Linked DNA regions of Homo sapiens. The protein of the gene in region 1 interacts with the protein of each later gene in a pairwise test. Each region holds a gene or a part of one and is shown in the gene's direction. Other genes may lie near its edges. The genes, in order: SNRNP48, UBASH3A, UTP14A, EXOSC7, LUC7L2 and SUPT5H.

The links.
Region 2: the proteins of SNRNP48 (region 1) and UBASH3A interact in binary tests that used the Homo sapiens proteins (3 or more experiments, as listed by UniProt).
Region 3: the proteins of SNRNP48 (region 1) and UTP14A interact in a two-hybrid assay, tested with the Homo sapiens proteins (one large-scale study listed by BioGRID).
Region 4: the proteins of SNRNP48 (region 1) and EXOSC7 interact in a two-hybrid assay, tested with the Homo sapiens proteins (one large-scale study listed by BioGRID).
Region 5: the proteins of SNRNP48 (region 1) and LUC7L2 interact in a two-hybrid assay, tested with the Homo sapiens proteins (one large-scale study listed by BioGRID).
Region 6: the proteins of SNRNP48 (region 1) and SUPT5H interact in a two-hybrid assay, tested with the Homo sapiens proteins (one large-scale study listed by BioGRID).

The regions. Positions count from the first base shown.
Region 1 is NC_000006.12:7,595,783-7,601,024, forward strand, and holds part of SNRNP48 (U11/U12 small nuclear ribonucleoprotein 48 kDa protein), read left to right. Parts: intron 1-3,890; coding exon of another isoform or gene 3,891-3,919; exon of another isoform or gene 3,920-4,077; intron 4,078-5,242. UniProt on the Homo sapiens protein: Likely involved in U12-type 5' splice site recognition.
Region 2 is NC_000021.9:42,409,151-42,414,392, forward strand, and holds part of UBASH3A (ubiquitin-associated and SH3 domain-containing protein A), read left to right. Parts: intron 1-271; coding exon 272-458; intron 459-3,873; coding exon 3,874-4,072; intron 4,073-4,259; coding exon 4,260-4,373; intron 4,374-4,408; exon of another isoform or gene 4,409-5,242. UniProt on the Homo sapiens protein: Interferes with CBL-mediated down-regulation and degradation of receptor-type tyrosine kinases. Promotes accumulation of activated target receptors, such as T-cell receptors, EGFR and PDGFRB, on the cell surface.
Region 3 is NC_000023.11:129,908,606-129,913,847, forward strand, and holds part of UTP14A (U3 small nucleolar RNA-associated protein 14 homolog A), read left to right. Parts: intron 1-64; coding exon 65-129; intron 130-2,402; coding exon 2,403-2,545; intron 2,546-3,160; coding exon 3,161-3,316; intron 3,317-3,973; exon of another isoform or gene 3,974-4,086; coding exon of another isoform or gene 4,087-4,105; intron 4,106-4,704; coding exon of another isoform or gene 4,705-4,790; intron 4,791-5,242. UniProt on the Homo sapiens protein: May be required for ribosome biogenesis.
Region 4 is NC_000003.12:44,985,298-44,990,539, forward strand, and holds part of EXOSC7 (exosome complex component RRP42), read left to right. Parts: intron 1-3,842; coding exon 3,843-3,944; intron 3,945-4,252; coding exon 4,253-4,347; intron 4,348-5,242. UniProt on the Homo sapiens protein: Non-catalytic component of the RNA exosome complex which has 3'->5' exoribonuclease activity and participates in a multitude of cellular RNA processing and degradation events.
Region 5 is NC_000007.14:139,362,393-139,367,634, forward strand, and holds part of LUC7L2 (putative RNA-binding protein Luc7-like 2), read left to right. Parts: intron 1-5,242. UniProt on the Homo sapiens protein: May bind to RNA via its Arg/Ser-rich domain.
Region 6 is NC_000019.10:39,468,563-39,473,804, forward strand, and holds part of SUPT5H (transcription elongation factor SPT5), read left to right. Parts: intron 1-193; coding exon 194-299; intron 300-516; coding exon 517-610; intron 611-699; coding exon 700-836; intron 837-1,556; coding exon 1,557-1,712; intron 1,713-1,814; coding exon 1,815-1,961; intron 1,962-2,794; coding exon 2,795-2,941; intron 2,942-3,042; coding exon 3,043-3,168; intron 3,169-3,846; coding exon 3,847-3,931; intron 3,932-4,247; coding exon 4,248-4,367; intron 4,368-4,449; coding exon 4,450-4,552; intron 4,553-4,640; coding exon 4,641-4,768; intron 4,769-4,853; coding exon 4,854-4,959; intron 4,960-5,242. UniProt on the Homo sapiens protein: Component of the DRB sensitivity-inducing factor complex (DSIF complex), which regulates mRNA processing and transcription elongation by RNA polymerase II.

The DNA.
Region 1 (5,242 bases):
TCTCAGAAAAAAAGTACAAACACAAAAGTTTTACATATAATTTCAGAGGATTCATATTAATAGATCCTTTCATGCCCAGCTTTAGAGCTGGGTTAAAGAGTTTCTCCCTGGGAACCTCAGCAGAGAGTAGGTTAGAAGTTTTAAGCATAAGCTTTTAGGAAATTGAAAGAAAACTTCATCCATCAAAAACATAGACATAGGCCAGACACGGTGGCTCATGCCTGTCATCCCAGCACTTTGGGAGGCCGAGGCAGGTGGATCATCTGAGGTCAGAAGTTCAAGACCACCCTGGCCAACATGGCGAAACCCTGTCTTTACTAAAAAATGCAAAAATTAGCCGGGCATGGTGGCAAGCACCTGTAATCCCAGCTACTCAGGAGACCGAGGCAGGAAGAATTGCTTGAACCCAGGAGGCGGAGGTTTCATTGAGCCAAGATTGCACCATTGCACTCCAGCCTGGGCAACAGAGCGAGACTCCATCTCAAAAAAAAAAACACACATAGACAAACGAGTTAATAAAAGTTTAAATTTCTAATGAATGTAGATATGACATCTAGCCAAAACCTGAACAGCTTCTCTTGTAAGGATTTCTGCATTGTCTTCTTTGAACCTTCTGTAGGTAGCTTTCTCTGGACAACTTACCTTTTTTTCCTCATTCTTTTTTCTAGCTGAATTATATTTACCAGGCTGTAGTCATGGTTGGTTTTCTCCCTCATTGAAATTGAGGATCTTTACCAAATACTGTTCTAAGCCAGTATCTGGACTTGATTTCTCAGAGTTGCTCTATGGCTTCAGAAGAAAGACCATCTTATCCTTAGTTGTCTATATTACATGGGTTCTCTACAACAGCCAGAAGCACATTTCTTGTATTTTTTGTTTTGAGGTTCCCACTTTTGTCCCTGTCAGGGAAATTCCAGGTTTTTTTCTTTGAGGGAGACAGTTGACTCTCATTTTATTTATTCGGAGAGATTACTGAGCTATGACTAGTCAAGCCTTTTTTGGCCTCTGCTATTGGTTCTGCTCATATCCCCTGGTAGTGTACCCATAAAAAAGTTGAGGTTTTTGGTTTTTGAAAGGGTTAATAATACTTAAAGGACTTTATTTGAGTCTTAAGTGGTTAGATTTACTGAATTTTAGAGTTGAAAGAGAACTTGGAGATCATCTAATCCAGTGTCTGCATTTTACAGATAAGAAAAACCCTGTCTGATAGAGACATGATAAAGTTCTAGTGTGTTTGTTCTAAAGGTTCTCCGTATTTTTATTTTTTAAAAGGTTATTTTTTTAAAGCTCTTTTATGAATTACATTTCTCTTTCACAACAAACTTGTGATAAGTTGAACGATATTTTCCCCTCCATAATAGGTGAAGAAACAGGCACACAAAAGTGAAGTAACTCACCTCTGCTAGATAATATCAAAGTGGATCCAGAACTAAGTTCTGAATTTTGACACAAACTCTGAACTGAGTTGTTTGATTTTCTGTTAGAAACCCTACATTTAGTAAAATTTGTGGACCAGGATTCTAGATATTGCTCAAATTTATTTATGATGTCTTTCATGATTAAGTGGAAGAATATCACAAACTTCATATCTCTGCATACTAATCGTGACTATCAGTGCTGTTCATTGTTTATTCTGCTTTGTGTAAACCTGTTTTAAAGAAATAAAAGTAGCTGCTTGGCCATATATTAATGATGATAACTGAGTTTTTGTTTCCTTATCTGTAATACAAAACTCTCATAGAGTTGTTGAGAGGAACAGAGATAATGGATGCTAAACAAGCCTTAGCTCCAAAAATTGGTAGCTTCTATGGTCTAAGTGAAAATTAATATACAGAAAGTAATATTAAGATAATGAAATGGATGAGTTTTATATATATGAGTAATTTAGAAAATGTTCTGCTTTTTAATTTTTATAATAGTAATAAGGGAGATTTGGACATTGAGCTTAGTTCTTTTCAAAAGCAAAGAATTACTTTGAATGAATAGTTAAGAGGAACTATTATATTATTTTGATAGTTAAGAGGAACTTTAATTTTGAATTCTTACACTATCTTAAATTAAGATTTAATTGTTAACCGTAACCTTTTTTTTTTTTTTTTTTGAGGCGGAATCTTGCTCTCTCGCCCAGGCTGGAGTTTAGTGGCACAATCTCTACTCACTGCAAGCTCTGCCACCTGGGTTCACGCCATTCTTCTGCCTCAGGTCCCGAGTAGCTGGGACTACAGGCACCTGCCACCACGCCTGGCTAATTTTCTTGTATTTTTTTAGTAGAGACGGGGTTTCACTGTGTTAGCCACGATGGTCTCGATCTCCTGACCTTGTGATCTGCCCACCTTGGCCTCCCAAAGTGCTGGGATTACAGGCGGGAGCCACCGCGCCTGGCCAACGGTAACTTTATATGATCTTCAACCTTCTTTAAAAATTTTTTTTGGCCACGTGTGGTGGCTCCCACTTGTAATCCCAGCACTTTGGGAGGCCCAGGTGGGCAGATCACCTGAGGCCAGGAGTTCAAGACCAGCCTGGCCAACATGGTGAAACCCTGTCTCTACTAAAAATACAAAAATTAGCCAGGCGCTATGGTGCGTGCCTGTAATCCCAGCTACTCAGGAGGCTGAGGCAGGAGAATCACTTGAACCTGGGAGATGGAGGTTGCAGTGAGCCAAGATGGCGCCACTGCACTCCAGTCTGGACGACAGGGTGAGACTCTGTCTCAAAAAAAGAAAAAAAAATTTTTTTTTATATCCTCTGTAGAGTTATGCAATTTCTCAACAGATTATTTTTGTGGCTCACTTATGTCTTAGACATTTTAAGATCTTTTCCCTCAGGACAGGACTTTCTTTAAATATCTTATTGATGTATTTACTTTTAAGGGAGAATGACTAACATGAAAAATTTTACATTTCTCCATCTAATTCGTATTTTGTTTGTTACACACTACAATGTAAGTTTTTTGACAAGGTTTTATATGTATGTTTTCATTTCATCTGTCATGTCAGGCCTAAACTCAGTGTACAGAATTCTCAATCTTAAACTTTATGAAAGCTCATACAGCTATTCAATCTATATACTTATTTTCAGATATAGTTACTTCGGTTAATTTTTTAACCAAGATATTTCAATCATAAACAATCATTTTATGTTTAGTGGTTTATCTTTTTCTTTCAATATTAAATATTCAGGTTGTATACTTCAGTATTGTGAAGTGTGTTTGAGTCATGGCCATGATATGAAGATCAGTGTACTATCAAAGAAACTTAAAAAGACAGCATAGGATGGGCTTTAGATCCAGTCTGTTCCTATCACTTGTGAGACTTTGGGCAAGTCATGTTACTTCTATGACACTTAATTTCTTTATCTGTAACGTTAAGGAATTGACTCTGAATGAATTCTCCCTAAAATTCTGAATTTGTATCTTTGTGACAACACCTACTAGTACTATTTAATGTTGAATGTTATATGTTTAAGATCCCCTTTGATGACAAAAGTAACAAGAATGAGAATTGGCATTATTAAAACAATAGATTAGAGTTTCAATTTGGGGTGACGAAAAAGTTCTAGAGATGGATAGAGGTTGCACAACGTGAATGCACTTCATGTCTCTGAACAGTACACTGAAAAAATGGTTAGAATGTTAAATTTTATGTTATATATATTTTGCCACAAAAAACCTGCAAAAACAGGCAGCCAAAGGGTCTTAGAGTTATTATAATTACAGCACATTCATATGTACCTTTAAATCATTTAAAAACATGCATTTTGAAAATTTACATTTTATGTAAATGTAAGTTTATTTAAGTATGTTTATCCTTTTTGTTGTCAGAAATATCTATGTTCCGAATGAATTGAATGCAGTTTGTTGCTTAACCTTTCCTGTACTTTTTCTTTTTCAGTAATTGGGGTGAGTATAAAGAGGAATTAGGAACCTGAATGTACTCCTTATTTAAAGATATGCAGTATCCTTTTTGCAAATGATATCCTTTTAAAAGTAAAATTTCTAAACTTTATCTTAATACCTGTCACATATTATAGTCTTGAATTGGAATTTTGGTTGAATTACAAGGAATTTAAGTATCAGTCTTCATCATAAAGAAATTTAAGATGAATAAATTGAAGAAAAGGCTAAAATAATTTAAGAAGGAAATTATATTTCTTTGTTTAAAAATAACAGGCAAAGGTTTATATGAAGCTTGTTTGTAATACATCATTATTTTCTAATCTGTGTTTTCCTCCCAAATTTTTATAGCCTAATTCAAAGGAATTAGGCTTATCAAAGCTGTTTTTATAATTTTGTATTATGAAATGCCTACTATAATTAGAATAAAATTGATTGACTTGAAAGGGAACCCTTTTTTCCCCATTAATTCAAAACCCTTTGACGAGTAAAAATGGCCATATATTGTTATGTATAGCCGTGTTAAACCATGGCCTCAGATTCACTGCAGCTCTCCTCTTAATATGTAGACAAGTAGTACCTCTTTTTTGTTGTAATGCTTAGTTCATAGTATGCTCTTATTTGAATTCTTTTTGCCTCTACCTAGGAACTTAATGAGGTTAGACTTTATCAAATATAAGTATCTGGAAAGAGCTACTGATTTTATGTTGTTCTATGAACCAGTTACTACTTTAGAATAAGTTAGCAAACAATAAAAGGATTCCTTTAGTAGCTCATGTTCTTTGTTTGCATTAGTGAGTAATGAAGTCTAGAAAGAATTGTTTTAAATTGCTTTTTTTACAGTTCCAATCATTTTTTTATTTGAGAAAATTTGAATCTCAAAACAAAAATTTTCTTCAATGTTTAATACATCATATCAAGGTATTGTATTTACTTTTTTTCACTAATGAGCAGATTTTAGAAAATTCTGTAACTACCGGGGGGCACTGCTATTAACTTTTTTCAATTAATTTGGTTAAGCCACTATGCTTCCTCCTCAGGAAATTAAAATGAGTTTAATTTAATCTGTGCTTTCCTGGCGTGAGGAGGTGTGGGATTTCTGCTACTTAATTATTTTGTGGCCCCTAGCTCTAAGTCCTTGCACAAGTGGGATATATTTTGAATATTGACCATCTAGCTTGATGTCTCATACAAAAAGATATTTTTTACACAGTTTTTAATATTTCCATAGTTTATTTTCAAAGGGACTGTAATGCATATTACTTATTAAAAGCATTTTTTCCCCCAACTTTGATGGGGAAAAGCATATCAACAGATACCTACTTTTGTAGATGGCTATAAAAATTGTTA
Region 2 (5,242 bases), on another chromosome or scaffold:
TCATTTTTTCTACCTTTGACTTTGGAATCAGACTAAGGTGGGTCTGAGAGCAGGACTTACACTGACCAGGTCTGTGCCACACACAGCTGTGCCGCAGTGCCTCCCACCAGTAGGATGGCTGTGAGATTAATTTATGTCATGAGCATATATGATGTCTTCAGTGTGCCCTATAATTCTGCATTGCTGTCATTGTCATTCTGTTGTGTATCCTCAAAGGGGAAAACTCTTTTTGTTGTGACAGTGGGTGATGCCGGCTTGCTCTCTGTTGCAGGCTGCATGATCATTGCAATGACCCTTCCCTAGACGACCCCATCCCCCAGGAGTATGCCCTTTTCCTCTGTCCAACGGGGCCCCTGCTGGAAAAACTTCAAGAGTTCTGGAGAGAGAGCAAGCGCCAGTGTGCAAAGAACAGAGCTCATGAGGTCTTCCCACACGTGACACTCTGTGACTTCTTCACGGTGAGTCAACCCAGTGTGCCTTCAATGCTCACGGCAGCTGGAGGCATTTTTCTGTGCTAACTAGGCCATGATGGGACAAAGTTGACTTATTTAAATGGGATAGTCCAGAACTGCATCATTAGCTGGCACCTTCATATGAGCTGTCCTTTATTTTCCTCTTTGCCTTCATCTGGTCAACTCCTATTAATCCTTCAGAACCCAACTCATTTATCCTCTCCCCTTTTTGAGTCTTCTCCAGCTCCCCAGGCAAAAGGAGTTGCTGCCCATTTTCTCGTTCATGTGTCTAGTGGCACTTTTGTATCATACGGGCCATGTGTCTGGTGCAGCACCGCATCCCTCACCAGACCGAGTCCCTCAAGGGAAGGCAGATACCTCACTCATCTTTGCACCCCCAGAAACTAGCACAGCCCCTAAAACAGAGTTTGTGCTTCCAAAATGTGTGGTAAGTCAACTCAAGGATGGGTGATTGTTGGCTACCCACAAATGCAGAACTTTTCCCTGTCTCAGGGACCAGCCGTCTGATTCAGAAAAAAAATGGCCCAGTGGGTAGCTCCACAGCAAAACACAATGGCCCAGCAGGCAGCTCTACAGGGGCACCGGGAAGACAAGAAGAATGTGGGAGCTGCTCAGGAGAAAAGAAGGAGAAGGGAGAGACAGACAGCCACTGCTCTACTCAGCTCCGCCAGAGGGGCTTAAGGAAGGGCACACCCACTTCTGCTACCGCGGCCTGGCCCCAACTCTGCTGTTGGCAAACTGATTTGTTCCACCCATTTCAAGGAATTCCATCAGGGCCCAAGGAACCCTCCATTCCAACACCAGGCCCCTCGGTGCTGGATGGAAAGGAGGAATGCAAACCTCTGAAGGGAAAAGATTTCTGGAAGATGTCCCAGGAGAAGCAGTACCTTCCAAAGCCTCCAACCACCACCCCGGATTGCCCGAGACTTGCAGGGATCCCCAGAGCACAAGACTAAACCTGGAAAAGCCCCAGAAAAATCGAGAGAGTTTTCCCCCTACATCGACATCAATGGTACTTGTGACAAGCTGACTCCCTTCTGGTTCACCCTCTGGAGCCAACGGGGAAAGGCAAGGCAGCCCAAGCCATGTGACACAGCTCAGAAATCAGAGCAGGCCTTGGCCCCCCACTCCTTCCCCAGCCCACTGAGGTGCAAGCACACACACACACACACAGATAGACACAGAGACACACACATAGCTCACACACATAGACACACACAGATTGACACAGAGACTTACACATGCACACAGATACACACACATACATGCATACAGACATACATAGATATAGACACACAGACACACACAGATAGACACAGAGACGTACACACGGCACACACAGATACACACACATACATGCATACAGACATACATAGATATAGACACACAGACACACACAGACATGGAGACGTACACACGGCACACACAGATACACACACATACATGCATACAGACACACACAGAGACACAGATACACACAGACACACACAGATAGACACAGAGACGTACACAGCACACACAGATACACACACATACCTGCATACAGACATACATAGATATAGACACACAGACACACACATATATACATGCATACATGGATACAGACATACACAGACACACACAGATAGACACACATACACACTACATGTACATAGGTACACATGCAAACAGATACACACAGATATACACACACAGGAATACACAGATACATGCACATAGACACACACAGACACACACAGAGACACACATTAGATAGACACACATGCACAAACACAGACATGCACATACATGCACATACATAGACAAATGCACACATACAGACACACACATAAGCACCACATGCACACATATGCACACAGATACACACATGCATACACACAGACACACATATAGACATACGCAGACACACAGACACACATAGACATACGCATATGCAGACACACACACAGACACACACACATATAGACATATGCAGACACAAACACACTCACACACCTCCCTCTGTCGTTAGCTCCTCCCAGTCCCCCACCCCAGTTCTGGCCTGGCCGTGGTTAGTGGAGCTCCCCTCACAGGCAGAAGAGTGTAACGGAGACTCACTGTGTACCTTGATGCTGTAAAATGAAAACACTAATCTTCCGAAGTGTGATATTGATCACAGCTACACTTATAACATGACTATTCTTGAAAATTACATATCTGAGGCCAAGAAACACAATGTGAGACGGATTCAGGAATGGACATGTGTTCACTGGGTGGTTTTGTGTTGAGTGCCGTTGAGGGTTGCAGAGAAAACAGACAGGGAGGAATGTCAGGCCGGCCTGTCCATGGGGAGACGGAAGCTGCATTAAACACTGTGATCTGGCCTCATACTTGGGCTTGTAAGAAGCACTGTGGGAAATTCCGAGGGCAGCCCGGTGCTGGGAAGAGAAGGGATCAGGCCAACTCCCGCCAGGAGGGTGTGGTGTCTGGGTTTCCCCTGTGGTCCGATGTGGCCAATGGCACTGGGAAGGTTTTCAAGCCCAGGAAGCAGCCTCCCCAGGGCGGTAGGCAACACCGAGCCCAGATGTCAGGAGAGGCTGCGTCTGGCTGGAGGATGGGGGTGGGAGCCCCGTGGGCAAGGCTGTCGGGCCAGCACCTGTCGGGCTCCGTGGGCCTGAGGGATTCTCCAGGTGACAGAGAGCCTGCGGCCTCAGGGGTGGGAGCTGCATCAGAAAGAGGGTCCTGCAGCCACTCAGGGGGCATCAGGGAGGCCGGGCCAGGGGCTGTGCAGGCTCAGGTCCTCCAGGGAGCAGACCCCAAGGCAGAATTCCCAGTGCAGGAGACGCACAGGGGAGAGACTGCTGGTGAAGGCAAAAGAGGAGGAGAGGGTTGGAGGCAGGCAGAGCCTCAGTGCCTTAGAGGAGTCCCTGTGGAACCCGACTCAGTGCTCAGCCGTGGAAGAGAGGGTGGCCCCGCAGCTGGAAGTGCAGCTGAGTCCCGCTCACTACAGGCTCTGAGCAGTGCCTGGGCAGCCTTGGAGTCTGCTAGAAACCTCCAGAAGCCAAATCATGCAAACCTGAGCAAAGCAGTGTGCCATGGGACTGAGGAAAGGGCCTGGCAGGTGATGAGCACGTGCCATGGAGGGAGGGGATGCAGTTCAACGACCAGGGGATTTCCAACCTGGGCACCTAAAGGAGACTCCAACCTGCAAAGAAACTTACCTGAAATATTTGAAAAAACCGAGGTCCAGGTATAGAACAAATCCATAACCCCAGACACAAAGGGACGCAATAAATTATGTTACAGCGCTTTGAACAGAAAAGAATCTCACTTTAATTGCTGCCTGATTGTTATTAATTAAATTAATAGATGACTTCTGATGAGAGGTGTGGAAACACAGGCTCTGTCTCTGTCCCCTTAGTGTGAAGACCAGAAGGTGGAATGCCTGTACGAGGCGCTGAAGAGAGCTGGAGACAGGCTCCTGGGCTCCTTCCCCACGGCCGTGCCTCTGGCTCTCCACTCCTCCATCAGCTACCTCGGCTTCTTCGTCAGTGGCAGCCCCGCAGACGTCATCCGGGAATTCGCCATGACCTTCGCCACGGAAGCATCTCTCTTAGCAGGTGGGCAGCCCTGGCCAGTTGCAAACACAGGGCTGGATTCACAGTGAGTGAGCCCTCTGTGGCAGGGACTAGCCCCCGGCACATGGATGCAGTGGGTGGGTTCCAGGGGAGCAGAGCCCAGCAGCAATGGTGGGATGGCTGGGTGGGCTTTCTTCCGGGCTCAGTGGCTGCACCTGTCCTCACCCAGGCACTTCCGTTTCCCGCTTCTGGATTTTCAGCCAGGTGCCTGGACATGGCCCTAACCTGAGGCTGAGCAATTTAACTAGAGCCTCCTTCGTGAGCCACTACATCCTTCAAAAATGTAAGCCATTAGAAAGCTTCCGGACCAGCTTTGGTCTTCTCTTTAGGCGGGAATAGCCTTGTTCTCATTATGTGGTTTTTAAAATGCTTAGCTATATGCCAACAGCCTGGGAAAGTGCCCCAGAAGGGTGTGCCAAGCATCAAGCCTGAGTGGGTGACTGTGACGGGGTTGGAGGCTGGTGCACACAGGGAGTCAGGGCCTCCCCACCCCAGCCTTGAGTGGGAGACACACAAGTCCTACGTGACTTATTTCTGTATTTTCAGTATGAGCTTAGTGCTCTCTCCTTGGCCTCTCCAGGGAAAGATTATTTAGACTCATATTCAGAATCATCAAAATTCCCTTCTCTCCAAACACCAGCCCTGGCCTGGAGACCAAGGCTACCATTGGGGTTTAGTGGAAAGGATTGTGGACTTGACGTCAGAAGATGTGATTTTTTTCTGTGTCCCTGATGAGTGGCATGACCTTAATCAAGTCATGTCCACTCTCTCTGTCTCTTTTTCTTTCTCTACAAAACAATGAGGGCTCTCACTCTTCAAGAACAATGTTGCCTGAGTCTGTGGCCCATCCTGCCATAGTTCCCGGGACACAGAAGGCACTCAGTATTGCTGAGATTTGCCGACTCTAAAATCTGACGAGGCCGCAGTGCCTTGGTGGGAGGGCTCCCCACTTTCTCTCTCTGGGAGCGTGTCTGTCTGTGCTCAGACATGTATGAAGCACAGATCCTGGCCTGTAAATCCATCCCTGAATCCTGGGCTTCCACTTGGATGGCAGCTTGTGAGTCTGGAGATCGAATCTGCTGAATAATTAGAAAGTCGCCCCCGGTCTTTGTGGATTAGTATCCTTTATCAAATGATGGCTCTTTCACACCC
Region 3 (5,242 bases), on another chromosome or scaffold:
TCTCCCAACCCCAAGCCCCCATAAAATTTATTCATTCCTATTATATCGTTTTGCCTAATTTCAGGCGGAAATTGGCTGAGAGGTCTGAGGCTAGTCTGAAGGTGTCAGAGTTCAATGTCAGTTCTGAAGGTAAGTTGAACAAAGGAAGATACCCATGCATGAAACCTGTGGAGTTCCAAGGGCATTGTGTTCACCTCACCCCCCCTAGGAACTGTTTTTGATGTGGTTAATGACTCATACCATAAATACCTGGGAGAGTGGGTGAAGAAGTGTAGTCAGATGCCCTTCAGTTTCTTCCATCTCTCAAAGAAAGCCTAGAAGGCTGTGGTCAAGGTATCCTACAGAGTTTGATGAGATACTTATAGGATAGATGGACATGAATAAAGACAGCTGCCTCTTAGTAACTTAGTCATAATTCATATTTGTACAATTTCATTTTTATTTCAGTTCTCTTAACAATGCTTTGAGTTAGGAGACAGGCAAATATTCTCTTCAGCCAGAGCTCAGAGAGGTCACATTACTTATTCAAGGGCCTTTGCCTAGTACAGTATTTCTCAACCTTTGCTTTTTTATTGCTCCCCTGAGAGGAGCCTTTCAAGCCTTTTTTTTTTTTTTTTTTTTTGAGACAGAGTCTCACTCTATCGCCCAGGCTGGAGTGCAGTGGTGCGATCTTGGCTCACTGCAAACTCCGCCTCCCAGGTTCACGCCATTCTCCTTCCTCAGCCTCCCGAGTATCTGGGACTACAGGTGCCCGCCACCGCGCCTGGCTAGTTTTTTGTATTTTTAGTAGAGACGGGGTTTCACCGTGTTAGCCAGGATGGTCTGGATCTCCTGACCTCGTGATCCACCCGCCGCAGCCTCTCAAAGTGCTGGGATTACAGGCGTGAGCCACCGTGCGCGGCCTCAAGACATTTTTTTCCTCATTGTATCCCTCCCCCTGTGCCCCTTCCCCAGGAAATCAAGTCCTAAGGAATAAGAGTTTGTTGGACAGAGTTGAGCCTTGGAGGGACACAAAACATTGTAATATCTAAGATTTTTTTCATACTCTCCCAGAAAGAACCAATTTTCACCCTGGGGTGGCGGGGTGGTAAAATTGCCCCTGTTCAGAATACATGCTCTAATAAGCGGCAGCCATGGGATTTTATCCTAATACTGAGTCTAGATGCCAAATCTTTTTCACCCTGTTCACAACTTAGGCAGCTAGAATGGGTCTTGCATTTGTAGTAATCACTGGTGTAGCCTCCTAGGGCAAATAACAATGTATTCCAAGCGTACTTATTCAGTGGATATTTATTGTGTTTCTACTAGGTAGCAGTATCAGGAACTGTTGTAGATACCAAGGTTAAAGTAGCGAATAAGATGTGAGCTCATGGGGTTTACATTCTAATGAAGGGAGACAATAAGAGAGGATGATGCAGTAAAGCAACTAAGTGGCTACTTTAGATCGGTTGGTCATGAAAGGCCCCTGAAGAGGCAAAATTGAAGCCGAGATCTGAATGACAAGTCAAGTCAACCATGCAAAGATTGGGGAAAGCATTTCAGGCCAAGGAACAGCTAGCACAAAGGCTCTAAGGTAGAAACATGCACAACATGTTGAAGAATAGGAAAGAGGCCCCTGTGACAAAAGCATTCTAGAGGGTGGGGGTTGATATGAGGTTAGAGAGGCAGATGGGGATTAGATCTCATAGGACCATGTCCTTTAGGTAGATGAGATTCAAAGTATAATGGGGAGTCACTGGAGGATTTTCAGCAGGGTCATGACATGCTGTGGTTTATATTTTCGAAAGATAATTTTGGGCTGGATACAGTGGTTTACACCTGTAATCTCCAGCACTTTGGGAGGCCGAGGTGGGCGGACTGCTTCAGCCCAGCCATTTGAGGCTGGCCTGGGCAACATGGCAAAACCCCATCTCTACAAAAAAAAAATTAAAAAAATTAACCACGCGTGGTGGCACGCGCCTATAGTGCCAGCTACTTGGGAGGATTGCCTGAGCCTGGGAGGCAGAGATGGCACCACTGCTCTCCAGCCTAAGTGACAGAGTGAGACCCTGTCTCAAAACAAACAACAACAACAGCAAAAAGATCACTTTGGCTGTTTTTATTTTTGGCTGTTATGTGAAGAATGAATTGCAATGGGGCAAGAGTAGAAGCACCAGGAGAAAAGCAAATGAGTTTTGAATAAATATTTTCCCCTATCTTCTACCCCCTAACACGTTTGGGGATGAATGTAGAAGAGTGATAGTGTTGGCATGGCTAGAAATAGGCAATTGAAGTAAGAGAATTATTCTTGCTTCTCTGCACATTTGCCATCTACTGGCATTTTCTACTGAGGCTTCTCCCTACATTATATTGAGATCTTGTCTCACTTCTTGGTCTGACCAGAAAGTTTGACCTTTCCACAGGATCAGGAGAAAAGCTGGTCCTTGCAGATCTGCTTGAGCCTGTTAAAACTTCATCTTCTTTGGCCACTGTGAAAAAGCAACTGAGTAGAGTCAAATCAAAGAAGACAGTGGAGTTACCTCTGAACAAAGAAGAGATTGAACGGGTAAGCTACAGAGAAGGTGGTCTATTAAGGGAAAGAAATTGAATTGACAAGGGAAAATAGGGTAATAGAAAGAAGGGAAAGACCTGAAAAATGGGAGAAGGGGGAGTTGTGATTTCCCCACTATGGATAAGATTAAAAATAATCTAGGAGTGCCAGGCGCGGTGGCTCACGTCTGTAATCCCAGCACTTTGGGAGGCTGAGGTAGGCGGATCACCTGAGGTCAGGAGTTCGAGACCAGCCTGTCCAACATGGTGAAACCCCGTCTCTACTAAAAATACAAAATTAGCCGGGTGTGGTGTAATCCCAGCTACTTGGGAGGCTGAGGCAGGAGAATCCCTTGAACCAGGACGTGGAGGTTGCAGTGAGCTGAGATTGCACCATTGCTCTCCAGCCTGGGCAACACGAGTGAAACTCCATCTAAATAATAATAATAATCTAGGAGAAATTGCAGTCCTGAGAAGCAAGAGGACTAGCATCCTGATTCTTTCATCCTGATTCTAGCATCCTGATTCTTTCTTGGGCTAAGAAATGTTGCTTCCTAATTTCTTGTTAGTCCTTTGGGTTTGATGCTTTAATCTTGTGGCTCTTTCCGTTTACATGCCTTGCCTGCTTCAGATCCACAGAGAAGTAGCATTCAATAAAACCGCACAAGTCCTCTCCAAATGGGACCCTGTCGTCCTGAAGAACCGGCAGGCAGAGCAGCTGGTTTTTCCCCTGGAGAAAGAGGAGCCAGCCATTGCTCCCATTGAACATGTGCTCAGTGGCTGGAAGGTGAGTACAACAAAATGAAACTGAAAGGTGAGATTTTATAAGTTGGAGATTTCAGAGCCTGCAATTGATTTGATTGGACATGTTAAGCTAAACCCCAGCATAAGTCATTTTAGCTTAGTGCTCAGAAAGAAGGGGTTGCCCATCGTCATTGTCAGTCATGTGATAGCCAGTCACAATAGCTCTGTGATCACTTTTTTTTTTTTTTTCTTGAGACAGGGTCTTGCTCTGTCGCCCAGGCTGGAGTGCAGTGGCACGATCTCAGCTCACTGCAACCTCTGCCTCCTGGGTTCAAGCAATTCTCCTGCCTCAGCCTCCCAAGTAGCTGGGATTACTGGCGTGCACCAACACGCCCAGCTAATTTTTTTTTTTTTGGATTTTTAGTAGAGATGGGGTTTCACCATGTTGGCCAGGCTGATCTCAAACTCCTGACCTCAAATGATCCGCCCACCTCAGTCTCCCAAAAGTTTTGTGATTACGGGCATGAGCCAATGCGCCCGGTCTCTGTGTCACTTTTCATCTGCTTGTAGTATACAGTACTTGCTATTTCCATGTTTTTGTGTTAAACCATGTGATTGCCCGTATAGCAGGAACATAATAATGTTTTCTTTCTTTTACCCCAGTTTTTAAAAAGCATTTAAAGCCACATTCTGATCCTAGGGAAATCAGGAACTCGATAACATTAATGATGCCTTAGTGAGGATATGTGAACAACAGAAGCCAAACTTTGCTTGTACAGGAATACCGCATTAAAATATAATGTGTTGCTGGCAATGACTAGAACTTCAGCAGGTAACTTACTATGACTCTGAGCTGCAGGGCAGGGGTTGATGTTTTAGAGCTGGGTTTCCCAAACACTGACCCCTAACAAAGTTTGTGTCTGAAGCAAAAGGATAATTCTAAGTATGTTTGTTTGGTGGGTGTAATGTTGCCAGTTCTTTTTTATTATGAGGTTATTCTATTTTAATGGTGTTGAAATATCTTTTCTTCTATGAAATGATGGTGGTAGTAAATGATGGGATTGGGGGTGAAATGGTAGTTATGCTCTTGGCAAAATTAGAAGTTGGAAATCCTATGTTGGTCCCTGAAGTCCGGTTTTTAGTCCGAATAACTGCTTTAGAACAGCTAGCCTACTTTTCCAATACACCATTGGTATGGAGTCTATAATGGGCTGATTAGTCTTAAATAGATGCCCTCTTTGTGCTTCTCCTCTTTACTTTCCAAAAACCCAAGAATGGTAGTTTCTTAGGCGTTGGGAAGTTGAGCTAATTAAAGCTAATCAAAGTAAACATTGCTTGCCACAATAGCTAGAAATTGAGCGAGTAGTTGCTTATTATGGGGATAAGCTGTTTCTGATGTTTTTGCTGAAGTCACTACCATTCTCTTTCTAGGAGGCTTCCTTTTCTACATGAAAAAGAGATCAGGTTTAAAGTGTGGCTGCAGGATGAAGGGAGACTTTAGAAAAAAAAAATCAGAGGTAATACAATTTGTAGGATTCAAAAATAAAAAAGCATAGAAGATATGTAGTGAAAAGTTTGATTCCACCCGTGCCCCATCTGATCATTTTTACCCCCATACTCACCCAGAAGTAACCACTTGCATAAGTTTGCTGTTGTTGTTGTCTTAGAGTTTTATTTCTATATTCATGTTTACCTCCTTTTTAAATAAAAAGAAGGGTAGCATGCTACTACACACTGTCCTCCACCTTGCTTTTTCCAAATGACAGTGTAATCTTGGAGATAGCAGGAAAATGCCAAGTTTGTTATTAAAAACGAGATGGGGCCGGGTGTGGTGGCTCACGCCTGTAATCCCAGCACTTTGGGAGGCCGAGGCAGGTGGATCACCTGAGGTCAGGAGTTTGAGACCATCCTGGCCAACATGGCGAAACCCCATCTCTACTAAAAATACAAAAATTAGCGGGGCATGGTG
Region 4 (5,242 bases), on another chromosome or scaffold:
TCTCCAGACTCAAGATAGGGATATTGTGTCTGGAATTGGTGGGTTCTTGGTCTCACTGATTTCAAGAATGAAGCTGCAGACCCTCGCGGTGAGTGTTACAGTTCTTAAAGGCGGCGTGTCCGGAGTTGTTCCTTCTGATGTTCAGATGTGCTCGGAGTTTCTTCCTTCTGGTGGGTTCGTGGTCTCGCTGGCTCAGGAGTGAAGCTGCAGACCTTCATGGTGAGTGTTACAGCTCTTAAGGCGGCACACCTGGAGTTGTTCATTCCTCCCGAGGTGGGTTCGTGGTCTCGCTGGCTTCAGGAGTGAAGCTGCAGACCTTCGCGGTGAGTGTTACAGCTCATAAAGGCAGTGTGGACCCAAAGAGTGAGCAGTAGCAAGATTTATTGCAAAGAGCGAAAGAACAAAGCTTCCACAGTGTGGAAGGGGACCCAAGCGGGTTGCCACTGCTGGCTCTGGCAGCTTGCTTTTATTCTCTTATCTGGCCCCACCCACATTCTGCTGATTGGTCCATTTTACAGAGAGCCGAGTGGTCTGTTAGACAGGGTGCTGATTGGTGCGTTTACAATCCCTGAGCTAGACACAAAGGTTCTCCACCTCCCCAGTAGATTAGCTAGATACAGAGTGTAGACACAAAGGTTCTCCAAGTCCCCACCAGAGTAGCTAGATACAGAGTGCTGATTGGTGTATTTACAATCTCTTAGCTAGACATAGAGGTTCTCCAAGTCCCCATCAGACTCAGGAGCCCGGCTGGCTTCAACCAGTGGATCCTGCACTGGGGCCGCAGGTGGAGCTGCCTGCCAGTCCCCTGCCATGCACCCGCATTCCTCAGCCCTTGGGTGGTCGATGGGACTGGGCGCCGTGGAGCAGGGGGCAGCGCTCCTTGGGGAGGTTGGGGCCACACAGGAGCACCCATGGGTGGGGGTGGGAGGGCGGGGAGGCTCCCGCATGGCAGGCTGCAGATCCGGAGCCCTGCCCCGTGGGAAGGCAGCTAAGGCCCAGCAAGAAATTGAGCACAGCAGCTGCTGGCCCAGGTGCTAAGCCCCTCACTGCCTGGGGCCAGCTGGCTGCTCCAGAGTATGGGGCCCGCCTAGCCCACACCCACCCGCTGAGCCCATGCCCACCCAGAACTCGCGCTGGCCCGCAAGCACTGCCCGCAGCCCTGGTTCCCACCCACGCCTCTCCCTCCACACCTCCCAGCAAGCTGAGGGAGCCGGCTCCCACCTTGGCCAGCCCAGAAAGGGGCTCCCGCAGTGCAGCGGCGGGCTGAAGGGCTCCTCAAGTGCTGCCAAAGTGGGAGCCCAGGCAGAGGAGGTGCCGAGAGCAAGCGAGGGCTGTGAGGGCTGCCAGCACGCTGTCACCTCTCAATATCTTCCAGGGAGGAAAGGTGCTGGGGGAAGGATGGGCTGCACAGGACCTTCCACCTGATTTGTGATGTTTATTTTCTGTCATTGAAAAGTTAAACGGGTGAAAGACCTGAAGCAAGTATGGCAGAGGGTGATCATTGGTACTGTGTGGTGCTGCAGTGTTTTGCTTTTTTCTGTTTAATTTCTCAAAAAAGTCAGTCACATATGCAGTTAGCCAGGCAGTTTAAAGATAAACTGTCAGTCACATACTTTAGAGCAGTGTTTTATTTTATTTTTTATGTTTCTGGGAAGCATCAACTCCTTGGAGAATCTGATTAAGCTAATGATTCTTTTTCTGAAAAAAACTGCTTTTGAAAAATGTTTACAAAGAATGAGAAGGAGCTCCATGAGCCAACGTGGAATGATTTCCTGCATATATATAGTTAAGTGTTAAAAAAAAAAAAAAAAGTAAGAGTATCTATAGTATTCCACCCTTCATATAAGAAACAAGGAGATATTAAAAAATTCATGTATTTGCTTATTTGTGCAGAGAAAATACAAGAAAGATAAACCTGAAACTGAAGAGAAACCTAGGGTGAATGGGAAGAAAGGGGCATGAAAATAGCATAATACGGAGGAGAGTGACATTTCTCTGAGCATACTTTTCTGAGTTTTCTCTCAGAACTATAGTGATAGCTCACAAACTCAGAAAGTAAATAAGTAATTAAAAGTAACCATGATGTGGGGGAACCCAAAATGGAAAACAAAAATTTACAAATGAAAATTAGCCAGGCATGGTGATGTGCCTGTAATTCCAGCTACTTCAGAGGCTGAGGCGGGAGAAGCGCTTGAACGCAGGTGGCGGAGGTTGCAGTGAGCTGTGCCACACTGCACTCCAGCCTGGGCGACAGAGCCATAGTCTAAAAAAAAAGTTACAAGTTACAAATGAGCCTGTGTTACAAGTGAGTAATGTAACCACACTGAAGGGCACGTAGAAGAAAAGAACTGAAGTAACTGGAAAACAGTATTTTGCCTGGATACTCTGAGGCTAAAGACAGAACTTTACACAAATACTGTGTGCTATTAGTAAATTTGTTTCTCACAGGGGTATGGGTTAGAAGTTCAGAAACTGTGTATACTAAGATTGAACAAATACAGAAATACATGTTAGATAATAAGAGCCAGCTTTCTCCTTCTTTGAGAAAGAAGTTACAAATAAGAAACAGAGGAAGGTTAGAATGAACCATGTGATGTTAGATTGGAATTGATCTATCAGTATGAACTCTTGGCTTTTTAATAGATATGTAGATAGATACAGAATTAAACAGATTTGTGTGTGTGTGGTGGGGGTGGTTAGTATACATAACTGTATTTTCTAGCTCTGTCTGCTGAGAAGTTCTGGAAGAAATAATACTCCAACAGCAATGAACTTAGAGCCTAGTTCCTGGTTTTAAGTACCATTCCCCAATAAAAGCAACCAGGGCTCCTTGGAGAAAGGCTTGATCCCTAGGGCTGGGCAGAGAAGACACAAGAGGATAGATATCTTGTGTTGCAGAAAGTAGATAATTACTCAAAAAGTTGGAGGCATGTTGAAAGAGCACAAAAACTAACCCAAAGAAGCCCCCAGTGGCCAAATTTGGAACACTTTGAGCAGCAAAATAACTAATGATAGTAGTGGATTATAACCATAGCATAAAAGATACCAATGAGTTGTACTGATACAAGTAATTGAAGGAGTAAATAAATGGGCAGAAGGAACAGGCAGCGCGTAGACCACCCTGAAAACCATCTTCTGCCAAAAGAGTCAGCAAACTTCCTGTAAAGGACTGGATAGTAAAGATTTGGGGCCTTATGGGTCATATCTCTGGCCCAACCACTCAGCTCTGCTTTTGTAGTGCAGAAACAATCATAGACATTACCTAAACAAGTGGGCATGGCTATGTTCCAGTAAAACTTATTTACAAAAACAAGGGACCTTAGTTTGTTGACCCTGTTCTAGAGACTGCCTCTTTAGAAGATTAGGTGTCTTTCACTATTTACACAGTAGATCTTGTTGAGTTTTAGGGGTAGGAGGGCTTCAGTTGAGATGATTGTACTCTGTAGCTCTGACAACATATACTTCTTGGTGCAATTTAAGAATTGCAGATTTAGAGAGAGGTGGCTTATTTTGTCTCTTGTTCAGATCTTGTTTTTGTGTGCATATTCTATATAGTGGTATGTAGTATAGATTTTGCAATCAGACACAACTGGCATGGAAAACTAGCTTTGTTTTCACTAGCTGTAGGACCTTGGACAAGTCGCTCAACTTCTCTGAGTCTCCATTTCCTCATATGTAAAATAGTAATGTTGTTGTTAGCTACAAGGACAGAATTTTAGATGATCCACTAAGAGGAAAAGAGATATTCTGCATATATCTTCTCTAGGGGGAAAATGGGTGAGTCCGTTTAGGAGTTATTGTTGATCTGGGGTGACTATAGGACTGTGGTTGTTAACACCTAGGAAGACCTCCGTGTGGATGGCCGTGGCTGTGAGGACTACCGATGTGTCGAAGTGGAAACTGATGTGGTGTCCAACACTAGTGGGTCCGCCAGGGTCAAGCTGGTGAGTACTGTGACCATGGTTCAAGCCCAGGTGGAGAAATGAGTAGGCCCTAAGGAATGAGCTGCTGACGCTGTCTGGCTTTTGGAATGCAAATTGCTCTTGGGGAAATCGAAGATCCGAGCCAAACTCAGGGAGGGGGGGTCTATCCAGATCTGAAAAGACTGCTCACCTCCTCCAAAGACCACTTTCCAAGTCTTAGCACTGCTCCTAAAAGAGTCCCCCAGGGGTGTATGTCCAGAAGAGGAGGGAGGTGGTGGAGTACCTGGCTGCATACTCTGAGTGAGGACTCTTCTTGCATGTGTCTGCAGGGTCACACAGACATCTTGGTGGGAGTGAAAGCAGAAATGGGGACGCCGAAGCTGGAGAAACCAAATGAAGGCTACTTGGAGTTCTTTGTTGACTGGTCAGTACTGTCTATGCAGATATTTCTAAAGATAAATGATTTTAAAGATGAAGATTCAGAAAATGAACCTCTGGTTTGCTGTTGAACCCACTTTTATACTTATCATTCAGCCATCCAGCAGGCATTTGCTGACCTCCTCCTATGTGCCAGGTACATAGTCAGGACTCTTGGCTTGAGTCCTGCCCTAGTCTTAACCACCTGGCTATTGCTGGCCTTGTTTTCCCTGTCCGATAAAGGAGGACATTTGCCAGGCAGCCTAGCACATGATTGTGATGAGGGTCAAATGAAATGATTGTGTTATGGTGCTTTGAAAAATATACACAGTAAGGATCATTTGGTCTAAAATGTGCTGTTTCTCTTCCTACTCTAGTTCTGCAGAAAACTGTTCATGATTTGCTTGACAGATGAAGCCTAGGGTCAGCCAAGCAGCCTGACAGGCTGAGGAAGTGGCAGCTAGGCAGGCAGTATGGGTGCTGAGAAGAGAGAGGGCTCTGCAGTGTCTGCAGCCAGCCTTGGGCCAGAATGTCACTTCCTTCTCTGGCCAGCTTTGTGATCTCAGGCTGGTTACTCAGTCTCACTGTGGCCAAATTTCTTCATCTAAAAAATGAGGATAATAAATAATACCATGGTGATGAAGAGGAAATGAATAGAGTGAGTACCTAGCACAGTGACTGACTTCCAGTGGGCTTTCAATAAGTGTTATTTCTCCTTATTTTGTCAATAAGTTCAATAAGTATTATTAGCTCCACATTCTAGGGGTCGGGGCTTTTTATTTGGTTGCTGGCCAGGTCCCGTCTTCTATCAATTACTTTGCTTCTGGAAGCCAGGCCTTCTTGAAGTGGGTAAGGATCTCTGTGGGCTCATGCTGGGTGTAGGTATATAATGTTGACCCTGT
Region 5 (5,242 bases), on another chromosome or scaffold:
TTAGCATACAGTCAACTTCAAGTTACCCAGGGATAGGGGAACATGGAAACGTCCCCTGAATAACACCATGTAATTTGAAACCATTTAATGGGAACCCTTGTATTGGACACACAAACAGCCTATGGGAACGCTGTTGGGTGTCTTTGGCACTAAGAGGTGGAAATGGGTATCCAGGAGGTGGGAGAGAGATGGAAAAGGTAGGTAGGAGGGTATTTAAGGCAACTCTGTCCTTTTTTTTTTTTTTTTTTAATTCCAGAGACTATAAAGCAGCGACTCTCTTTTTTGGAAGTGGGGTTCAAGGTGGCAGTGACCCCCTCCACTCTTAGTGTCCTGTCTGTGAAGGAATCTGAAGTGGCACAGAGTCCTGGGGCTTTGGGAAAACATTACCTCCTCACCCCCTCAAGGTTTCTTCCCCCTCCCCTTCCTGACAGTTTTTAATTAGTTCCTTTTAAAATTCATTGGAGATTTAAGTCTGTTAGTTAAATATACCTTAACTTGAATTACATAAAGTAGTTAATCATTTAGATTACCTAAACTTCACTGGAATCCTTAGGAGTAGGAATTTTGTTAGCAGGGAAATGGAGAGGTAATTTTGGATCACTGGGCACTTCAAGAAAGGACATTCCTGGGTGAGTGGTGGAAGTTGGGGGCTTTAGACAATCTGAGGGCAGCATGATGGTGCCGGGAGGCTGGGCAGGGGGACTGCCAGGAGGTGGGAGAGAAATGCATAAGGGAGGTGGGAGGGCCAAAGACAAACTCTGCCTTCTTTGCAATTTTGCCTAGGGCCCTGGTGGTGGCAACCGCCTGTGTGCCACTGAAAATCGTGCCGATGCCTGGCATACTGCATAAATGGAAGCAGGGTACCGCGTGAGTTGAAACATTGGTCACACTATATAAAGTTTGTATATGTGAATCAGTGTAACTCATACCCATATAACTGGGGGTCTGACTGTATTTGGATTTTTCTGATAAGGCATCATGGGCTAAGGAAAAGAGCACTGGGCTGAGACTCAGGAGACCTGGTTTCTAGCCCCAGCTGTACCTCTAATTGTAACCTTGGGTAAGTCACTTAACCTTTTTTGCCTCAAGTTAAATCTGTAATTTGTTATATGGGAAACCAAATAATTTCCTATGTTATACTCAGAAATGTTGAAAAATAAATATATTTTAAGTTTTTTTAGAAAGGAGCTATAAGTAGATAGTAATTACTAGTTTATTTTATCTTGTTTATGATTCATTACGTTTTATAAATATCTTTCTGTTTTAGTTGTTAGCAGAGGGGAGAGGGATAATTTGTTTTCCCTGAACATATTCATTCTATTTGAAAGCAGGGAGGAGTTGCACAGGAAAATCCAAGAAACAGTTTGAGAATTGTCTGTGTGACAGTTGGAAGAACCCAGTACCCTCACACAGACTGTGATTTTTGCTCAGTTGGATTAATTGCAAGGATGTTCCTTAGCTAAAGCCCCTTTGCCAACAAACACAGTTTGGTCATAAGTCTCTAGTCTTGATCCCAGGAAAGTCTGGGAAGATGCAAGCAATAAGAATTAAATAAAATTGAGGGTGTGGATTTAGATTACATCCTTTTTTTTTTTTTTTTTTTTTTTTTTTGAGACAGGGTCTCTGTTGCCCAGGCTGGAGTGCAGTGGCACGATCTCGGCTCACTGCTACAACCTCCACCTCCTGGGTTCGAGTGATTCTCCTGCCTCAGCCTCCCGAGTAGCTGGGATTACAGGTGGCTGCCACTACGTCTGGCTAATTTTTGTATTTTTAGTAGAGATGGGGTTTCTCCATGTTGGCCAGGATGGTCTCGAACTCCTGACCTCGGGTGATCCACCATGCCCAGCCTAGATTACATTTTAAGCTTAGAAATTAGGTAAGTTATAGAAGGTAGTTCTGAGGGTTCTGTATCTCTTAATTGCTTATACCTTTAAATGGGAGCAGAGACCACCTTCGAAAGATTAAAATAGGCAGGAATGGCAGCCTGCCCTCCAAAACAACAAGTAGACTAGGAATGTTAGATAGAATTTTATAGCATCATTAATTGTCCCTTATGGTTAGGGACTGTTTCGGGCAAGTTAAAACTTTCAATAATTTTAACTATTTTAAATGTTAATCTTTCTAAATTGTAGGATATACTTCCTCAGTTAACATATTAATCATAATATTTTTGCTGATCAGTTGTACAGTAGTTATAGTTTGTGGGATATAAAACTGAAAGGATACTCATCCTCATACCCAGGAAAATACTGTTAAGAAAGCCATTTACTTGTTGCTAATGTAAGGTTAGTAGTACATAACCGTGTAATCTGTAAGATAGTATGACATTTCTGCCTTTCTGCAAAATTACTGAATCAAAGTTTGAAGTAGTGCGTTCTTTAATGGATTTTATTTATAAAATCATCTTTACTGTAATCTGTGTTCCTTGACTTTTCATCAACATTGAAAACATTTTCTCTTAATTTTTTCTCATTAACATAATGAACCATATTCATTTCTTGGTCAGTTGTGAGCCATTCTTTTATTCCACTTGGATTGTTCATTTTAAGTGAAGGAGGCGGAGCCTTTAATGTATACGCAGACATTTTTTAAATAATAACAGGATATTTCTTAGTCTAGAGCTTGTAAATTCTTTAATATAAGGAGTTTTATAGGATTAAACAGTAGTTTCTCTGCGTTTCAGTTAACTATTTAACTTTATCAGAGTTTCAGGCATATCCAAAACACTGAAAGCACCTGCATAGTGAATCAATGAAAAAAGAAAAGTTTTCCTCATTTTGCATTTTGAACTCTGAATAATATTTCTATCTACACAGCAGCCCAGAAAACAATAAAAGTATCACTTCATATAACATTGCATCGTTCCTGGATTCTCTACAGTTGTTTAGTTCTCCTCAAGTAAGCATATGCTTCTGAGACATTCTTTTACTTCAGGTAAATATAAGCAAAACAAAGAAAAATCATTTTGTCTATTTCTGCATCAGTTCTATAAGGAGCAAGTAAATTCTTTTATTTTCGTTTAGGTTGGATGTTGTCATATAAGGATAGATGGTAGTGTTCAACGTGTTCAAGATGGGTAGTAGGAATTCAATGGCCATGAGGTGTCATGGATCAAGGTCAGGTTTAGTGAATCAGGTACTCTTCAGTAACAGGTGGTTCATACAAAGCATTGAAGCTTAAAGTTGCTGTGAGTTCAGCAAGCAGGAGGGTTGAGAAGACAGGCAGATGGTTTAAAACTAAAGGTCAATAAGTGGGCAAGACTAGTTAAATGAGGCAGATACTCCCCAAAGATGGAATTCCAGAAAGGTGCTTGAAAAGGACTGAATTCTTAAAGCCTACTGCTGTTAGTATGTAGAGTTCTTGAGGAAACAAGCAGTTTGGCATAACTTAATCTACTAAGAAACTATAAGAAGGTGAAGGAAGTTGGAACATCTTACTGGAAAAAGAATGAGGGAGTGAAGAGGGAATCTTGTGAATTCAAAACTTGCAGAAAAGCTATTCTGTTTCCTTTTTGTTTAGGTTCTCATGCACTAGCAGCTGCTAGAATAGATATTGGAAGGCAGGGCCAAAATAGGTCAGTTGTTCAGTTTTGCAAGATTATTGAGGATATAGAGAAATTAATTTGTGAAAACTCTGAAATCATCTGCAGCTCCATGTTTTTGTTTGAACTGAATAACTTAGGACTTTGAGAAGTCAAAGCCGTCAGAAAGTAACATGAAGTCCATTCAGCTGAATAAATGTCATATTTTGCTATTAGCATAGAAAAGAATCTTTAAAACTTCTTTCCAAAAAGCACTCAGTATTGACCCATATGTTCCAGTATAGTTGTGAACCATGTACAACTGATGTTTGACTTATTTGACTCAACATGAAAGGAATTTAACCAGCTGCCCTTGCTGAATCTTGTCTCCTGAATATGGTAAATGGTTTTTGTTTTTAATCTTAATACCTTAGATTTCTGCAGACCCCAGTTTTCTCTTTTAGAGTTAACTGATAATTATTGGATAGTATCTATAATATACCTGGCTGTTCTGTTCTGTACTGTGCTCTAGTATTAGTTTAAATGGTAGACTTTTCTCTTAAAGTAACTTTAATAGTTTAATAGTTAAAGTTACTTGAAGGTATGTTTTAGATCAGGGACTGGCACTATGGCCTCCTGCTTTTGGTAAATAAAGTTTTATTGGAACACATCCATGCCGATTCATATACATGATGTCTATGGCTGCTTTGGCTTACGACAGCAGAGCTGAATGGTTGCAACAGAGTCATATGGCCCGCAAACCGAAAACATTTACCATTTGACTCTAACAAAAGCTTGTTGATCACCATTCTGGTTTAGTTATTCTAAACCAAGTGTGGTCCTTGGAGCAGCAATTCAGCATCACCTCAGCATCACGTCGTATTGTTAGAAATATAAATTCTTGGACCCACCTACTGAGTCAGAAATTCTGGATATGGGCCCCAGCAATCCATGTTTTTAGAAACCTTCCAGGTGATTCTGATACACATTAAAAGTTTGAGAAACCCTCTTCTAGATCAGTGTTTCCCAAATGTTTGTCACACTTATTGCCTTTATTATTATTTATTTTTATTTTTTATTTTTTGGAGACAGAGTCTCTGTCTCCCAGGCGTGAAATGCAGTGGCCTGATCTTGGCTCACTGCAACCTCCGCCTCTCGAGTTCAGGCGATTACCCTAGCTTCCCGAGTGGCTGAGATGACAGGCATGCACTGTCATGCCCTGCTAATTTTTGTATTTTTAGTAGAGATGAGGTTTTGCCATGTTGGCCAGGCTGGTCTCAAACTCCTGACCTCAAGTGATCTACCTGCCTTGGCCTCCCAAAGTGCTGGTATTACAGGCGTGAACCACCATGCCTGGCCTTGCCTTTATTATTATTTACTGTTTTCTGTTTATTTAATATTTTCCTTTATGTCAACTCACTTTCTAAAAATTTTAAGTTAATTTTAAAATGAAAGTTTATACCACCATAAAAATAAATACAATGAAAACAAAATGGTGTATTATGTAACTAGACTCTTGTCACTTAGGGTTCCTGTGCTAAAAATTAGAAGTTGTTAAATTTATTAAACAAGTACTGTTGCAAAATGGGAACTTTTTTTCTTGACTTAATTGTGATTAATAATTTCCTTACTGAGTGGTATTTAAAATGTCTTGTTGGCAAAATCATGTAACACCTAAAGTCATCTTTTGTGCAAATCTCATACTTTGGAAATTACTGTTCC
Region 6 (5,242 bases), on another chromosome or scaffold:
GAGTGCAGGGAGGTGGGAGGCGGGCCTTTGGGGTTTGTGAGAAGTCACTGCTGCCAAGAGGGTGTGTGCTGGGATGGGATGGGTCAGTCTGCCTGTGGTCCTCTCCTTCTGTTGCCAGCTGAGAAGACTGAGGTACAGCAAGATTTTCTTCTTGACTCTCCCTTCTAATCTTCTCTCCCCCATCAAATTCCAGGTCCCTGGGGGGTGATGTTGCCTCTGATGGTGACTTCCTCATCTTTGAGGGGAACCGTTACAGCCGGAAGGGCTTTCTGTTCAAGAGCTTCGCCATGTCTGCTGTGGTGAGGGTCCCAGAGGGGTGTTGGTAATGGGGGTGGTGTGAGTGTTCTCCTGCAGGTGATGCCCTGGGCTGTGGGTTATCTGGTTCTGTCCCACTCCTCAAGTTAGGAGTGTTCCCTAGGAGAATTATTCCCCTAGGACCCACTCAGCCCACTCAGCTGGGCTGTTGCACTGACCTCGGTCCATTTCCTTCTCTTCCCCTCACCGCTGGGGGCTTAGATCACGGAGGGTGTGAAGCCAACACTCTCTGAGCTGGAAAAGTTTGAGGACCAGCCAGAGGGCATTGACCTGGAGGTGGTGACTGAGAGCACAGGTATTTGATCCCCCTCTATAACCTGGGCCAAGGAGCAGGGGCGGCCCATGGTGGCAACCCCCGAGTCAGCCCTACGACTGCCCCTGCAGGGAAGGAGCGGGAGCACAACTTCCAACCTGGGGACAACGTGGAGGTCTGTGAGGGTGAGCTCATCAACCTGCAGGGCAAGATCCTCAGCGTGGATGGCAACAAGATCACCATCATGCCCAAGCATGAGGACCTCAAGGTGGGTGCCCGGTGTTCTCGGGCAGGGGTTGGAGTGTTCAGGCACATCTGACTGTATGTGGCTGTCGAGGCGGTGGTGTGCCTGGTGACACCTGGTTTCCAGGAGGGTAAGTTGAGGCCCTTCTAGCATTCTCAGGTGCCTGAGAGGCTCTGTCTGAGTGCAGCTCAGGGTCGGTGGGCAGCAGGCCTGCCTGGTGGTGTCTGTCTCTGGAGAGTGACTTGGTCTATCTTTTGTTTCTGAAAAGCAAGATATCTGGGTAGTACTGGGTTGAGAGTGTGATTAACCAAGGAGTAATCTGAGGCTTGACTTTGTTTGCTTAGAGCGGGGTGTGTGTTTGTCTGTGTCTGGTGTATGTCTGAGGGGTTGTGCAGGCCCAGTGTGATGTGTGGGGTGAGGCTGTCTCCGGGTGGGGCTGAGGAGCTGTCCAGTCGGGGGTCCTGTGTCTGAGGGGCAGGCTCTCTGTGTGGGTATAGGTAGGCATCGTGTGTCTTGAGGGCGGGCTGGGGTAAAGGTTGTCCAGGTTGGTGTCCTGTGTCTGGGGTCAGCTGTTTCTGGGGCAGTCTGAGGGGTCGTCCAGGTGGACTAAGGTAGTCTGGGGTGGGTGGTAAGAGCCTGAAGTGGGGTTTTTGAGAACATGCGTAGATTCTGAAGACAGGAGGGGCAGGCAGGTTGTGGTGGTCTCCCTTCACCTGTTTGTTGTCCCCACACCCAATCCCCCAGGACATGTTGGAGTTCCCAGCCCAGGAACTTAGAAAATACTTCAAGATGGGGGACCACGTGAAGGTGATTGCTGGCCGATTCGAGGGCGACACAGGCCTCATTGTGCGGGTGGAGGAGAATTTCGTTATCCTGTTCTCTGACCTCACCATGCATGAGGTAGGTGGATAGAAGGGTCGGGGAAGGGTGCACGTGCCAAGAGGAGACCCAGGTAGGCGAGCCACCTGGACTGGGCCTCACCCCTTTCACCATCCCTGGCAGCTGAAGGTGCTCCCCCGGGACCTGCAGCTCTGCTCAGAGACAGCATCAGGTGTGGATGTTGGGGGCCAGCATGAATGGGGCGAGCTGGTGCAGCTGGATCCCCAGACTGTGGGTGTCATCGTGCGACTAGAACGGGAGACCTTCCAGGTGTGTGTGTTGTGCTCTGTGGCGGGGACTTGCTTTTAGGAGGCTTCCTGTCCCTCAACCCCTCATCCTGGGAGGTGGCAGAGCCCCCAGACTGCTCTGGGTTGCAGATCTGGCTCTGTCACTTACATCTGAATGGCTGATAGTGGGCACATGGCAAGTCATTGATCCCTCCCCTTGCCTGTTTTCACACCCTATAAAATGGAAACGAGAGCAGCGTCTACTTTGTTCATAGTGAATGATTCCCTGAGGTTAGATCTGTACCCTGGTGGCTGTTGCTCGCTCAAGGATGGAGTGCCACATGTGCCCTCCTGCCTTTGCTCCTTCCTCATGGATGTGGGAGTCATGGAGCACAGTACTTAGGATCCTGGACTCCACATCCACATCTTGGCTTTGTTGCTCCTGTGCTGTCTGACCCTGGGCTAGTGACTCACCCTCTCTGAGCCTGAGTTTCCCTCTGTAAGATGGAAATCATGACAGAATCCACCTCAGAGGAAGTTTTGAGGCTTCAGTGAAATCTTACGGGGCCTGACACAGAATGATGGATGAACAATGTTGCTATCAGCCCCTTCTTCCATCTCTCAGGTCCCTGTTGCCCAATCGGGGGTGGAGTCTCCTTCCAAAGGGTGTTTTAGAATGACTGGGAACATTTTTGGTTGACCCAGTACCTAAAGGGTGGCACTCTGCCTGCCTGCCCCGCAGCCAGGGAATTGAGATGCCTTGTGGAGCTTGGGACTGTCTCCCACAAGGAAGGATTATCCCACTTTAGGGAACCCCTGCCCCGTGTCTCCCCTTCCCATTCTCACCCCCACAGCCTCCCTGCTCTCCCTCTGTAGGTGCTGAACATGTACGGGAAGGTGGTGACTGTCAGACATCAGGCTGTGACCCGGAAGAAGGACAACCGCTTTGCTGTGGCCTTGGACTCAGAGCAGAACAACATCCATGTGAAAGACATCGTTAAGGTCATTGATGGCCCCCACTCAGTGAGTACAAGTTCCTGCTTTTGAGCTGCATCTGAAAGAATTTGGTTGGTTGGGGGTGAGGGGGACATGGTCAAGAGAGTGACCCTTCTCTCCCCGGCTAGGGCCGAGAAGGGGAGATTCGCCATCTCTTCCGAAGCTTCGCCTTCCTACATTGCAAGAAACTGGTGGAGAACGGGGGCATGTTTGTCTGCAAGACCCGCCACCTGGTGCTGGCTGGGGGCTCAAAGGTGAGGTGGGCATGGCAGGACCCTGTGCGTTGGGTACCTGGCTCAGCTCTCCAAGCCTCCTCTGGCCCCAGAAGTGATAAGATTGGGCTTGTGAGGGATTAGGAGAGCAGTGTCATTGTCAGGTCCTTGGCAAAGAGTGAGAAGGTTTATTTGGGATTCTGAGCTGTTCACCAAGTTATTTTAAGTTATTTATTCATTTCATTTTACTGAGCACCTGTTAGGTGCCAGACACTGGAGAACCAGTGGTGAACAAGACAAAAATACTCTGCTCTCACAGAGCTGATACTCTAGAGGTGGACAGACAGATAAACCCATCGTACAGCTTGAGGTGATAGCAAGCGCTGTGAAGAAAACAGAATGGGCTCAGGAGACAGGGAGTGACCAGGGCTGCTGTTTTAGACAGAGGAGGGTAAAAAAGGCCTCAGTGGGAGGCAGTATTGGAGCAGAGACCTGAATGAAGGGATGGAGAGTGAGCATTTTGGGGGAACAGCAAGTGCAAAGGCCCTGAGGTGGGGCTTGTAGGAAAGTGTGCAGGACCAGCTGTCACAGAGGAATTCAGGCCTGGGGTGTGGGTGGCTGGGTGGTCTCCTCAGGGCCCTGCACGTGGGATGATGAGTTCCTGTGGTTTGTGGTTCCCCCATCCCCTGCCTGCCAGTTCACTCCTTGCTTCTATCCTAGCCCCGTGATGTGACCAACTTCACCGTGGGTGGCTTTGCGCCTATGAGTCCCCGGATCAGCAGCCCCATGCACCCCAGTGCTGGAGGTGAGAGGGGTTCAGGGTCAGGGGATGTGGTGGGTAGAAGGGGCTGGAAGGAACTTGGTTGTTCAGCCTACACTCACTGAGTGCCTGTGCTGGGCTGGGCACTGCTATTAGGGGTTCACCACCCACAGGAGGGTAGACGCCACAGTGACAGCCCAGAATGGTCAGGGCTTCCATAGGAAAGCCATGGGGCAGGGGTGGGCAGAGGAGGCTCTTAACCCAAGTAGGGAGGAGTCAAGCAAGTGAAGGGGACGTTCTGATGGTGCCCTTGCTGTGGGCACAGCCGTGGGGGACCAGTGACATTCTCCCCAATCCCCAGGTCAGCGTGGCGGCTTTGGTAGCCCAGGTGGCGGCAGTGGTGGCATGAGCAGGGGCCGGGGCCGGAGGGACAACGAACTCATCGGCCAGACCGTGCGCATCTCCCAGGGGCCCTACAAAGGTGACCTGCGAGGCCTGTGGAGGCCTGGGGAGGGGCATGGTGAAGGAGAGCCTGCCCAGCCTGACCTCCTGTCCCCCTGCAGGCTACATCGGTGTGGTGAAAGATGCCACAGAGTCCACGGCCCGTGTGGAGCTGCACTCCACCTGCCAGACCATCTCTGTGGACCGTCAGCGGCTCACCACGGTGTACGGGCGGGGCCTGGGGAGGGCCAGGGTGGGGCTTGCTAGGCAGTGAGAGGGGTCTGCTCACCCCATTTGTTCTCTGCGTCCCCAGGGGCTCACGGCGCCCGGGCGGCATGACCTCGACCTATGGGAGGACGCCCATGTATGGCTCCCAGACGCCCATGTATGGCTCTGGCTCCCGAACACCCATGTACGGCTCACAGACACCCCTCCAGGATGGTGAGTGCCCGCAGGGGACAGGGAAGAGGGGCTAGGGGGACCTAGAGAAGGGACAGGACAGACACACTCATTTCCCCCATTCCAGGTAGCCGCACCCCACACTACGGCTCACAGACGCCCCTGCATGATGGCAGCCGCACTCCTGCCCAGAGTGGGGCCTGGGACCCCAACAACCCCAACACGCCGTCACGGTGAGTCCAGGGTTCCCCAGGTTCTGGTGTGTGCTGGTGTGTGTGAGGGATGATGCTGGGTGTCTGGGGCATTGGAGGGGTTTGTGGGGCCCACCCAGCATTCTCTGCTCCTAGCCTCAGGCTGGTCCCTTTGAAGGAGGAGGCATAGCATGGCGGGGCGGGGGCAAAGCGGCCTCCTCTCCATCCCCAACCTCAGTAGTGATTGTGGTTACCCTTGGGCCTGGAGAAAGACTGCCTGGGTGGAGTGACCTTGGGAGGGCACCCTCATCTCTGTCAACCACAG